Linked DNA regions of Homo sapiens. The protein of the gene in region 1 interacts with the protein of each later gene in a pairwise test. Each region holds a gene or a part of one and is shown in the gene's direction. Other genes may lie near its edges. The genes, in order: BEGAIN, DEF6 and KIAA0408.

What was found.
Region 2: the proteins of BEGAIN (region 1) and DEF6 interact in a two-hybrid assay, tested with the Homo sapiens proteins (one large-scale study listed by BioGRID and IntAct).
Region 3: the proteins of BEGAIN (region 1) and KIAA0408 interact in a two-hybrid assay, tested with the Homo sapiens proteins (one large-scale study listed by BioGRID and IntAct).

The regions. Positions count from the first base shown.
Region 1 is NC_000014.9:100,580,806-100,584,458, reverse strand, and holds part of BEGAIN (brain-enriched guanylate kinase-associated protein), read left to right. Parts: intron 1-3,653. UniProt on the Homo sapiens protein: May sustain the structure of the postsynaptic density (PSD).
Region 2 is NC_000006.12:35,307,783-35,311,435, forward strand, and holds part of DEF6 (differentially expressed in FDCP 6 homolog), read left to right. Parts: intron 1-1,887; coding exon 1,888-2,028; intron 2,029-2,676; coding exon 2,677-2,862; intron 2,863-3,653.
Region 3 is NC_000006.12:127,449,345-127,452,997, reverse strand, and holds part of KIAA0408 (uncharacterized protein KIAA0408), read left to right. Parts: intron 1-1,680; exon of another isoform or gene 1,681-1,716; intron 1,717-2,645; coding exon 2,646-3,008; intron 3,009-3,096; coding exon 3,097-3,176; intron 3,177-3,653.

The DNA.
Region 1 (3,653 bases):
CAGTTTGCTGGGAGACATGGACCTTGGCCAGTACGGCAGGAGTCAGGAGCTGCTGGGGCTCTTCTCTCCCCTCTAGCCAGGAAGGGAACTCAAAAGTGGCCCTTGCCTCAGCAGGCCTTGAGTCTGGAGGACAGTACAGCAGCCTCTGTGGTCTGCCTGGGGTGGGGATCAGCCAGGGCCCAGCTCTGAGCCAAGCAGGGGAATTGCAGTCATTGGTTCAATCAGCAAGCCCTGAGCCCAAGTCAGGGATGGAGATGGGTCAGGCCTGGGCTTTGCCTGGGGAAGCCAGACATGGAAGCCTGGTCATCCCACAGTGGGTGCATGCTGGGATTAAGAGGTGCATGAGGTGGAGAAGCAACGCAGGCATGCTGAAGGGGATGCATGGGTGGATGATACTGTATGGAAGGGAAGCACTAGCAGGATAGAGCAGCGGATGGATGGGTAGAAACCTAGAGGGATAGGCTGGGCGCAGCGGCTCACGCCTGTAATCCCAGCACTTTGGGAGGCCAAGGTGAGTGGACCACCTGAGGTCAGGAGTTCAAGACCAGCCTGACCAATATGGTGAAACCCCGTCTCTATAAAAATACAAAAAAAATTAGGTGGGTGTGGTGGTGTGCACCTGTAGTTCCAGCCATTTGGGAGGCTGAGACAGGAGAATTGCTTGAACCCAGGAGGCAGAGGTGAGGTTGCAGTGAGCCGAGATCGTGCCACTACACTCCAGCCCCTGGGCAACAGAGTGAGACTCCATCAAAAAAAAAAAAAAAAAGGAAGAAAAACGAAAGAGAGAGAGAGAAAGAAAGAAAAAAAGAAAAGAAAGAAAGAAAGAGAGAAAGAGGGATAGATGGACGGGAGGAGAGGTTGATGGATGTAAGTAGCAAGATAGGGATGGGTGGGTGGACAGATGGAAAAGTTGATATGGATACAGGACTGGATTGATAGAACAAAATATCAATGGATGATACATGGGTGGAGGGAGGGAGACTTCTGATACACAAGGCAAGATTGGTAGATGAATGGATGGAAGGATCTTTGGATGGATGGATGAAGGAATGGATACATAAATGGATACAGGTAGTGCCTGGATGTTGGGATGGGTGGATGAATACTTGAATACATGTCCATGAATGATGGACAGAGGAATGAATGGACACTGGAAGAGTGAGTGCATGGATAGGTGATGAGTGTATATTGACGGATGTGTGGATAGAGGCCTGAGAAGGCAGCTCAGTGCACAAATGGATACAAAGCAATGGATGCATGGATACGAGACACAAGTAACAGAGGAATGGACAGACATGGAGGGATGGGCAGGCGGACAGATGGAGACGGGAGTGAGAGGACCAGTGAACAGATGAGTGCCCATCAGCGGGTGAGGGACACAGAGACAGAAGGATGTGTTGGTGCGTGGATGGCACCTGTAAATGGGTGAGCGGTCACAGGGGTGGATGGTGAAGGACGGTTGGTTGAATGGGTGAAGCTTCAGGTCACTCATGCCTTGATTTCCCAGATGCCAGTGTTTTGCTCACAGACCCCCATGTCCCTCTGCTTCAGAGACATATACTACGCAGGCGCAGGGTCAGGAGGGGGCTGATCAGACAGGGAGACTTAACCCCACCTTGACTTTGGTGGGAGAAAAGCCAACCCAAACTAACAGCTATTTGGCCTTTCCAGGCCCGCTTTGCCCTGGAAGACCCACTCAGGAAATAAGGAAGAAGCAGTGAGACCTCTTCGAAAGGTCAGCGGCCAGCCGGGGTTCCTACAGGGGCGTCCTTGCCCAGGGATCTCCCTGGAAGACCTGGACAGCTGTGTACATGTCCTATCTGAGGAAGAGAACTGGGGCACCTGTGTTGGGTGCTGGGGACTGGGAGACATCAAGACCATGGCTGCCCTTGGAGATTCTGAGGCCAGCGTGGAAAATCCAGGGACAGCGGGGCAGGTGATTAGGAGCACAAGTGTGCGGATTCCCAGAGCCTCAGTGTCCTCAACTGCAAAAGGGGAATAATAATAGACACTTCTGACTGGGCGCGGTGGCTCACGCCTGTAATCCCAGCACTTTGGGAGGCCGAGGTGGGCCGATCACGAGGTCAGGAGATCAAGACCATCCCGGCCAACATGGAGAAACCCCATCTCTACTAAAAATACAAAAATTAGCTGGGCATGGTGGTGCGTGCCTGTAATCCCAGCTACTTGGGAGGCTGAGGCAGGAGAATCGCTTAAACCGGGGAGTCAGAGGTTGCAGTGAGCCGAGATCGCGCCACTGCACTCTAGCCTGGCAGCAGAGCGAGACCTGTCTCAAAAACAAAAGAGAAAAAAGAAAGAAAGGAAAAAAAATAAACTTCTGTGCTGGGACGAGGGGAAGGTTGGTGAAGGTGACCACACCTCTGCTGGCCTATGCTGCGGCCCCTGGCGCATGCCCGCACCATGGGGGTTTACCCGAGACCCCTCAGAGCCCAGTTTCCTCCTCCGTGAAGCGGGGTAGCTGCTCCTAGCTTTCAGGCCTGCTGTAAGAATGAAGCGAGGTGACGTTTGGCACTGTCAGCAGAAGCCCGGCATGCCTGCCCACTCGGCAGGGTCCTCCCAACATCCTGTGGCCTGGTCTTCCTGCTCCAATCCCAGCAGACAGTGGGCAGCCTCATGCCCCTTCTGTCCGAGCTGGCAGGGGCCAGCTTTCCAACCACAGGGGCAGTGTGTGCCAGGCAGCAGGAGAGGGGCTTGGGCATCTGGAGAGGAAACGGGTGTGAGTGCCTGACCTTTGGGGTTCTGTCCTGGGCCTGACATGCCCAAGCCATGTGACCTCCGACGGGTCACTGCACCTTTCTGAGACCCTGCTTCTTTTAGCAGAAAATAGAGCCTTTGGCTGTCCTGATGCACAGAGGCGGGTGGGGATTTGGGGTGATGACGCATGCACAGCACGGAGCTTGGCACGCAGGATGGGCTTGGGAAGCAGGACTGAATCAGATGAGTCAAGAGGCAGGGGCTGCGGTGCCAGGAGCCGGAAGCCCCTCCAGGAGAGGTTGTCCAGGCTGCTGGTAGGTGAGCAGGTCCAGGCCGTGAGCCCACGGTAGCCGGCAGCATCCTTAGAGCCTCAGGCCCAGGCGCCTGAGAGCCAGCAGGTTGTTATGACAACGGAAACTTGCCTGATGCAGCCTGAAACTCTGGAAGCAGCTCAGAGGACTGGTTGGCCAGAGCCCCCAGAACACTCCTGCAACCATGCGTGCTAGTGAAACGGCCACATCAGAGCCCCAGTGCTAATGAGTCCTGAAGTCCCTTGCTCATGCCACTTCCCAGCACTGCCATGGGCTGAGTACTGCCCCATGCCCACCTGACAGATGAGGAGGGGATGTGGCTTGCCCGCAGGCCTGTTGGAGTGTTGGAGAAGGGATTTGAACTTGGATCTGCCAGCCTCCAAGTCTCTTTCCCACTGGTAATAGGGCAGGGGCTGAACGGCTGCTGCTGGGGAAGGGCTGTCCGGGTGTAGAGGGGCGACTGTCGGGGACCATAGGGTGGGAGGAGGACACTGTGGCCTCCCGAGAGCCTGAGATCCCTCCCCTATATTCTCATCCTGTTTCCAGTCACAGTAGGCCCACACCAGGCTGGGGATGTTTGTGAACTGACAGCCTGAACCTGCTATGCCATTCATTCAGTCAGTCATT
Region 2 (3,653 bases), on another chromosome or scaffold:
CTGAGCCCCAGGAGGACACTGAGGCAAAGTCTCAATACTTTCTCCCCCTCCTCTCTGAAAAGAGAATAAAATGAAGGCTTGGCACACACACCATCTCCGAGACAGTGCTAGCTCCTGCCTCCTAGGAACTGATTCCAAGGTGAACTGCTGGTGGTGGAAGAAGCCCTTCAATATAGCATGTATTGATTGCACTTGATGTACAAAAGAGGACATAGATGCTGAGGGACATAAAGATGAACAGAGACCTTGTCTCCAGAGTTCACAATCCAACGGAGGAGGGAGACTTGACATCAGTATTCTAGTAGGAAGGCAACCTGTGAACCAGGCACATTTAGTTTCAACCTCAGCTCTGCCATTTACTCTTAAAATTTCCAAACCTCTGTGTCTTCACCTGAAAAACAGGCTTAATAATATTTGCGTATATAGGTGATTGTGAAGACTAGAAATGGGGTATAAAAAGCGCTTTGACTGGGTGTAGTGGCTCATGCCTGAAATCCCAGCACTTTGGAAGGTCCAGATGTGAGGATCACTTGAGGCCAGCAGTTCAAGGCCAGCCTGGGCAACATATGCAGACCTCTGTCTCTACCGAAAAAAAAAAAAAAAGTTTTGGCCGGGCATGGTGCCTCAGGCCTGTAATCCCAGCACTTTGGGAGGCCGAGGTGGGCGGATCGCCTGAGGACAGGAGTTCGAGGCCAGCCTGGCCAACATGGTGAAACCCTGTCTCTACTAAAAATACAAAAATTAGCTGAATGTGATGGTGGGTGCCTGTAATCCCAGCTACTTAGGATGCTGAGGCAGGGGAATCACTTGAACCCAGGAGGTGGAGGTTGTAGTGAGCTGAGATCATGCCACTGCACTCCAACCTGGGTGACAGAGTAAGACTCCGTCTCAAAATAAAATAAAATAAAATAAAATAAAATAAAATAAAATAAAATAAAATAAAATAAATAAAATAATAAAATAAAATAAAATAAAATAAAAAACAGTTTTAATTAAATAAACCACCTCCTACAGTGACCGGCATATGGTAAGTGTGCAATAGTAACTAGTGACTTTTTAATCATTTACACTGCTTGTGACAAATGCTATAATAGAATTACCCCAAGGAGATTTTATTTTCACCAGATTTCAGATTTCAACCCCTTTATTCTAATATCATGGATTTGTTCAACAAACCCACATTTCCCCTGCACACCATTATGACCACTATCCCTTCTAAGCCTTGCCCTCTCCATGTCATGGACCATTTTTCATGACCCTTCTTTGAGCCCTCTCCTCTCCCAGAGCAGACACGCTTAGGTGATAGGCACACTGCAGCCAGGACACTGAGTCTTTGATGGAAACCATGATAAATTGGCAGCTTCTGCCCTGGGGTGGCAGACTAAGTCCCTGCAAACCCTGCAAACTGTCTAGCATTGTGGGAAGCACTTGGGCTTTGGAATCTGATGGAGATGGATTTGAACTCCAAGCTCTTGTTCAGTGTGGGTCTTTTGGCAAGTTACTGAATCCCTTGAGCCTCAGTCTCCCTGTCTGTAGAAAGAGGACACCAATACCTAATGAAGTGGCTAAGAGTATAACTGCATGGGTTTGAATTCCAGTTCTGCCAGCTGTGACCTTGGGTGAGAAATATCTCAGGGCTGCAGGAGTTTTCATTTGTAAAATGGGTATATGAGTAGTTGTTATGGTGGTTAAGCAAATGATATGTAAAGTACTTTAGCTCAGTGCTTGGCACATAGTATATAAGTTTTAGTTATTACTGAACTGAACAGTGTGTGTAGAGAACTCAGCCAGGATGGGGTGAGGACAAGCAGAGAGGTGGGGAGCAGTCCTCTGGCCCAGTTTTGGTTGGGGTGCAGAAAGACACACTGCCACTCTACTCTATCCCAGGTGCTGTCCCACAACCTGTACACGGTCCTGCACATCCCCCATGACCCCGTGGCCCTGGAGGAACACTTCCGAGATGATGATGACGGCCCTGTGTCCAGCCAGGGATACATGCCCTACCTCAACAAGTACATCCTGGACAAGGTGGGGCCCAGCTTGTAGGGAGCATCTGTAACCTCTCCCCACTTTTCCAGCCTGGCCAGCAGCCTAATACCTTGCCACTCCAACTCTTCGCCCCTGCCATAAACTCCTACTTCTGCCTGCTCTGTCCGTGACTGCTGTCCCATCACGTCCCTCACATCCCAGCCACCTGCCCCCTTCCTGTCCCCCTCAATTCACCTTCAATGTCCCTCATCTCTAATGAGGTGGGCCCCACCCTACCCATAACCTTCCACCGAATCCCTGCCCGGCCCTCCTCCAGCTTCCAGGGTTCTCCACCCTTCCCAGACTGTCCCCCTGAACTCCCCCTCCAACTCCTCCAATCTGTCACTGTGTTTCCAGGTTCTTGGCTCTTAGCTTCCTGCTGGGTTTCTCCTTCTTTGTCCTCTGGGCTGAAAGACTAGAGTTAATCTGTTGTCAGGGGGCCTGGGTGGGTGTGGGTGTGTTGTGGAGGGTGGAGTGGTTGGAACCAGCTAGTTACCTGGTAATCAGCTCAGGGATCCCTTGAGTTAGGGCCCTGGACTTGGCCAGGTGGGGAGCAGGGGCATAGATGAACCCAAGAAACCCAGCTGGAGCCTAGTGTCGTGGTAGAGCTGAGATATGCAGTCAGCTGATTTGCAGCCCTGGTGGCAGGTGGAGGAGGGGGCTTTTGTTAAAGAGCACTTTGATGAGCTGTGCTGGACGCTGACGGCCAAGAAGAACTATCGGGCAGATAGCAACGGGAACAGTATGCTCTCCAATCAGGATGCCTTCCGCCTCTGGTGCCTCTTCAACTTCCTGTCTGAGGACAAGTACCCTCTGATCATGGTTCCTGATGAGGTGAGGGTGATGGCAGCCCCAGGGACTGAATCACTTGGGACCAGACCTAAGCAAAACCATGAATGAGACCAAACCACCTTTGGTGCCTTCCCATATCCCCTTTCTTTCTTTACCATCTTCCCATGCTGGTATCTGTCCTCACCCAGCTGTCTCCAGATGCCTAGAACTGCCTGTGTCAGAGTAATTTTGCCTTCTTCCAGGAAAACTGAAATTACACTTTCATGAGGGTTCTGCTGGTCCTCACTGTAGGAAAATGATCTGCAAATTCTGTTTACACAGAGGTCTAAATGCCAGATACATTACTGAGCATTACTGGCAATCTAGGAAGGGTGCTTTTTTTTCCTTTACCTTTTGCCACTTCTTCCAGGACAGGAAGGATGCTTTACAAGGCAAGGGGAGACCTTTCTGAGACAGGAGGTTACTCTGGTTCCAGATTTTCCCTTTCTGCCTTTCTTCTGGAAAGCCAGGACAAACTCAGCTAAGAGACCCAGGGATAGGGCATCCTGGGAGAAAAGGCTGGGAATCTGGTCCCTATCTCCTTACTCCTGGGTGAAGCCAGGGAAGGCATTTTCCCATCCACCTGTACCCTCCCTCTTATCCTCACTTCCCTCCCCTGCCCATTTGGCCTTGTGACCCTTTAGTCCTCTTGGTGGCTGTGGAGATGCCAGGGTGACTTTAGGTCTTTAGAGTGGGGTTTACAGGAGAGGGGGCTTCTGTACTTACAAGAAGCCCTAGCATGTCAAGCTCCACTCACATTTGTCCTGGCTTCTGTTTGTGGGAAGGGTGATGAA
Region 3 (3,653 bases), on another chromosome or scaffold:
CAGCCATGTAATTGACTGTGAATAAAATATGAATTGGCATAGTAGGAAGAAAGCTGAAGAAAAGTAACTATTAAGCCCTTCCTCTAAAATAGAGCTGAGAAGGCAGGCATGTGGTGTATGATTAGGGATTAAAGGAGAATATATACTTCTTGTCCCTCTATAGTTTAGAAAATGTGTCCTGCTTGCTCCTTTAACCCCTCTACCCATACTCGGATTGGATCAACAAAGAGATTCCCTGGTCAAATCAGAATCCAAAACTCCAGCGCAATCAGAAACTGACCTGTAGTCCTAGGTCATTGCCTTCCAAATGTTTGGGAAGTTCAGTTCATAACAGTCTCAGACAATTCTAGCATCCAAGCAAAATAACTAAGGGATGCAGGATTAGTCTAGCCAATTTTTTAAAGCCATGTAGTTAAAAGAAGCTGCTGTCTGATTAAATTTATTACTGTCCAATAATTATTCTGACAATTCTATAGAGTTCATCTATGGTAAATATTAGCTTTATCAATTAGCAGGCATGAAATATGCTTTAAACATCAAATTATACCTCATAGAGATAACATCCCTTTCTGTATCAGAGAGACAAACGGGCTGTCATATTTTTTTATCTTGGAGAGTAGCTGTACTGCTGTTTATGTTTTGCTGCCTGTGCTATACAGCTCCATAACTAAACTAAAATTAAGAAATCAACACTTGGAAAAATAATCTCATGCCACAAGCATAAAAGATTGTATTTGTTTAACATTTATCACAAAGTTCTGTATGTTAAATCAGATGTAAATTATTAAGCCATGTACTAGAGAACTGTAGATTCCCAGGTATGCACATATATCTTCAGTGACTTTAAGTGATAATATCTAATGAGAGGATGCAGTGTTGGCTATTAAGATGCTCGTAGTTCCCTGTTCAGCCACTATCCACAGTCATTGCATTTGCTATGGCAAAACCAAGATGTTCATACTTGGATCATTTGAAATTTGAAATAATCCAGATAGAAATTCTGGATAGAACTTATAGACGTCTGGGGTTTTGTTTTGTTTTTTTCCACACTGTAGTCTCCTGCCTGTATCCTTTGGTAGAATAATCAGATAACCATTGACAAGGGCTGAGTACCAAGTAACATAGTACCTTTGTACAAAATAGTTTTCCATCAATAACATTGTTATTTGTTGATTCATACCTCACCTAAATCAAGAAAATTTAAGATGGCATAAAATTAGGTATGATATAAAATATGCAAAAACAAAAATGGAAAGATGAGCTGAAGACAGGAGGAAGGATCATATATGAAATGTACCAGTGAGTCTTTCTAGTAACTAACAAAAATTATCAGGTGCATATACCTTCAAATTCAAATGATAAGGCAAACTTATTTCCCAGGAATAGCACATTTTTCCCGGTTTTGCAACTAAAGCAATTTTGTTTTCACTCATGACTTCGCAAAAACAGGACAGTGTCACCAAGAGCATCCTTAGATTTAACATGTCACTTTTTAGGGTTCCTTCTTATATCCCTCAAGGTCAGCTCAAACCATAATGCCCGCAGAAGTTCAGTACAAATAATTTGGCAGGGACCAAACAATCAATTCATGGCTGCAGTTTGATGCTATCCTGACTTCATACAATAAATACTAATACATTTGTAAGCATTAGAAAAATAAATACACTGTATATTTTTCAGGCATCAACTCTAGTGCTTCTCTCAACTGAGTTATCGGTATGTATTAAGCAGCAATAAATCTATTATATTACTTGAATAATACATGTAGTGTAGATATTGATTGCGGCTGTTAAACATAGAGTCATTTGCTTTGATAGTCATCTGACAGTCTCTTTTGAAGTTTGACAAGCTTTTACATGACCCAAGCCTAAAGAGAAAGCCATTTCTTTCCTCTATTCAGAAGTGAACTGAATGAGTGTGTGCAGGTTCAACTAAGATCTCATAAAGAAGTAATCTGGATTCTACCTTAATACAGACTAATAGATGATCAAAGCCTTGCAGTTCTATTATATCACGTAGGGTATTGTCATATTTGTTTTAATCTGGATGAGAAATATTTTAAAAATGTGTATCACTTTGAGATTTTTTAAAAATCTCAGTAATATCTAGCCCTCACAATGTAATTGACCAACCAAAGGAAACATCTTTTGACTGACAAGTGACTGTTTAGGGAACAAGAATAAGTTGACTTACTATCTGAGATTGTCAAGCATTTAGACAGTTAAATGTTAGTGTACAAGTAGGACCAGACATTTGAAAACTATGACTTTAATGTTAAATTCTTGCATCTCTCTGAAAGCAATTATATAATATGGCCAGTAATTGATTCAGGTCATTCTAATTTTGTGACAGTGTTTCTGTATTTATATACAGATACAGATTTATTTTATTTTTGAATGATTGATTGCTAGTCAAAAGAATTAGCATCCATGTGTTGCCCTACTAAAAGTAGCCTTTATGTTTCATCAAACTTGTTCCAGCTAATCCATATTTTAGAGGCACTATTTGGAGGCCGAAGCATTAATACCCAGGAAGTATATTTTAATATGGCAAAGAGAACTCAAAGCGGTTTGCTTAGTATCAAGAATATTAGCAAAGTGAATTAGGGGAAAAGAAGTTTTAATTTTGTTTTGTTTTTCTTACAGCTTTGCCGGGAAGTAAAGCTTTGGAGGAAAATCAATATCAATGAAAGTGCTAAGATCATTGATCTTTACCATGAGAAGACCATTCCAGAGAAAGTGATAGAATCTTCCCCAAATTACCCCGATTTAGGACAAAGTGAATTTATAAGGACGAATCACAAAGATGGTCTGAGAAAAGAAAATAAAAGAGAGCAGAGCTTAGTCAGTGGAGGAAATCAAATGTGTAAGGAACAAAAAGCAACAAAAAAATCAAAAGTAGGGTTTTTGGATCCTTTGGCTACAGACAACCAAAAGGAATGTGAGGCCTGGCCTGACCTGAGGACTTCTGAGGAAGACAGCAAGAGCTGTTCTGGCGCCCTCAGTACAGTAAGTAAGATGTGATTGGCCTAGAACTGTTTCTAAAGAAATATTTACATTTCAAAGTGCTAACGGGCTGTTGCTTATATGTGTAAAGGCTCTTGAAGAACTTGCGAAGGTGAGTGAAGAATTATGCAGCTTTCAAGAGGAAATTCGAAAGCGGTCTAACCATAGAAGGTAGGCTGGTACATCTGATTATTTTAGATGGGTAAATAAAAAATAATATTGTTTTTAGTTAATGACTCCAAACTGCCTCCTCCTTACATGTAAGAACTAATGAGTTATTAAAATGTACTATCTAGGGTGGGAGATAGAAACTTTAATTTTTTGTTTGCTCGTTTGTTTTTGAGATGTTATCTTGCTCTGTCTCCAAGGCTGGAAAGCAGTGGCATGATCTTGGCTCACTGCAGCCTCTGCCTCCCAGGTTCAAGCGATTCTCCTACCTCAGTCTCCCAAGTAGCTGGGACTACAGGCACACACCACCACGCCCAGCTAGTTTTTTTGTATTTTTAGTAGAGACGGGATTTCACCATGTTGGCCAGCATGGTCTCGAACTCCTGACCTCAAATAATCCCCCTGCCTCAGCCTCCCAAAGTGCTGGGATTACAGGCGTGAGCCACCACGCCAGGCCAGAAACTGTAATTGTATATTTCT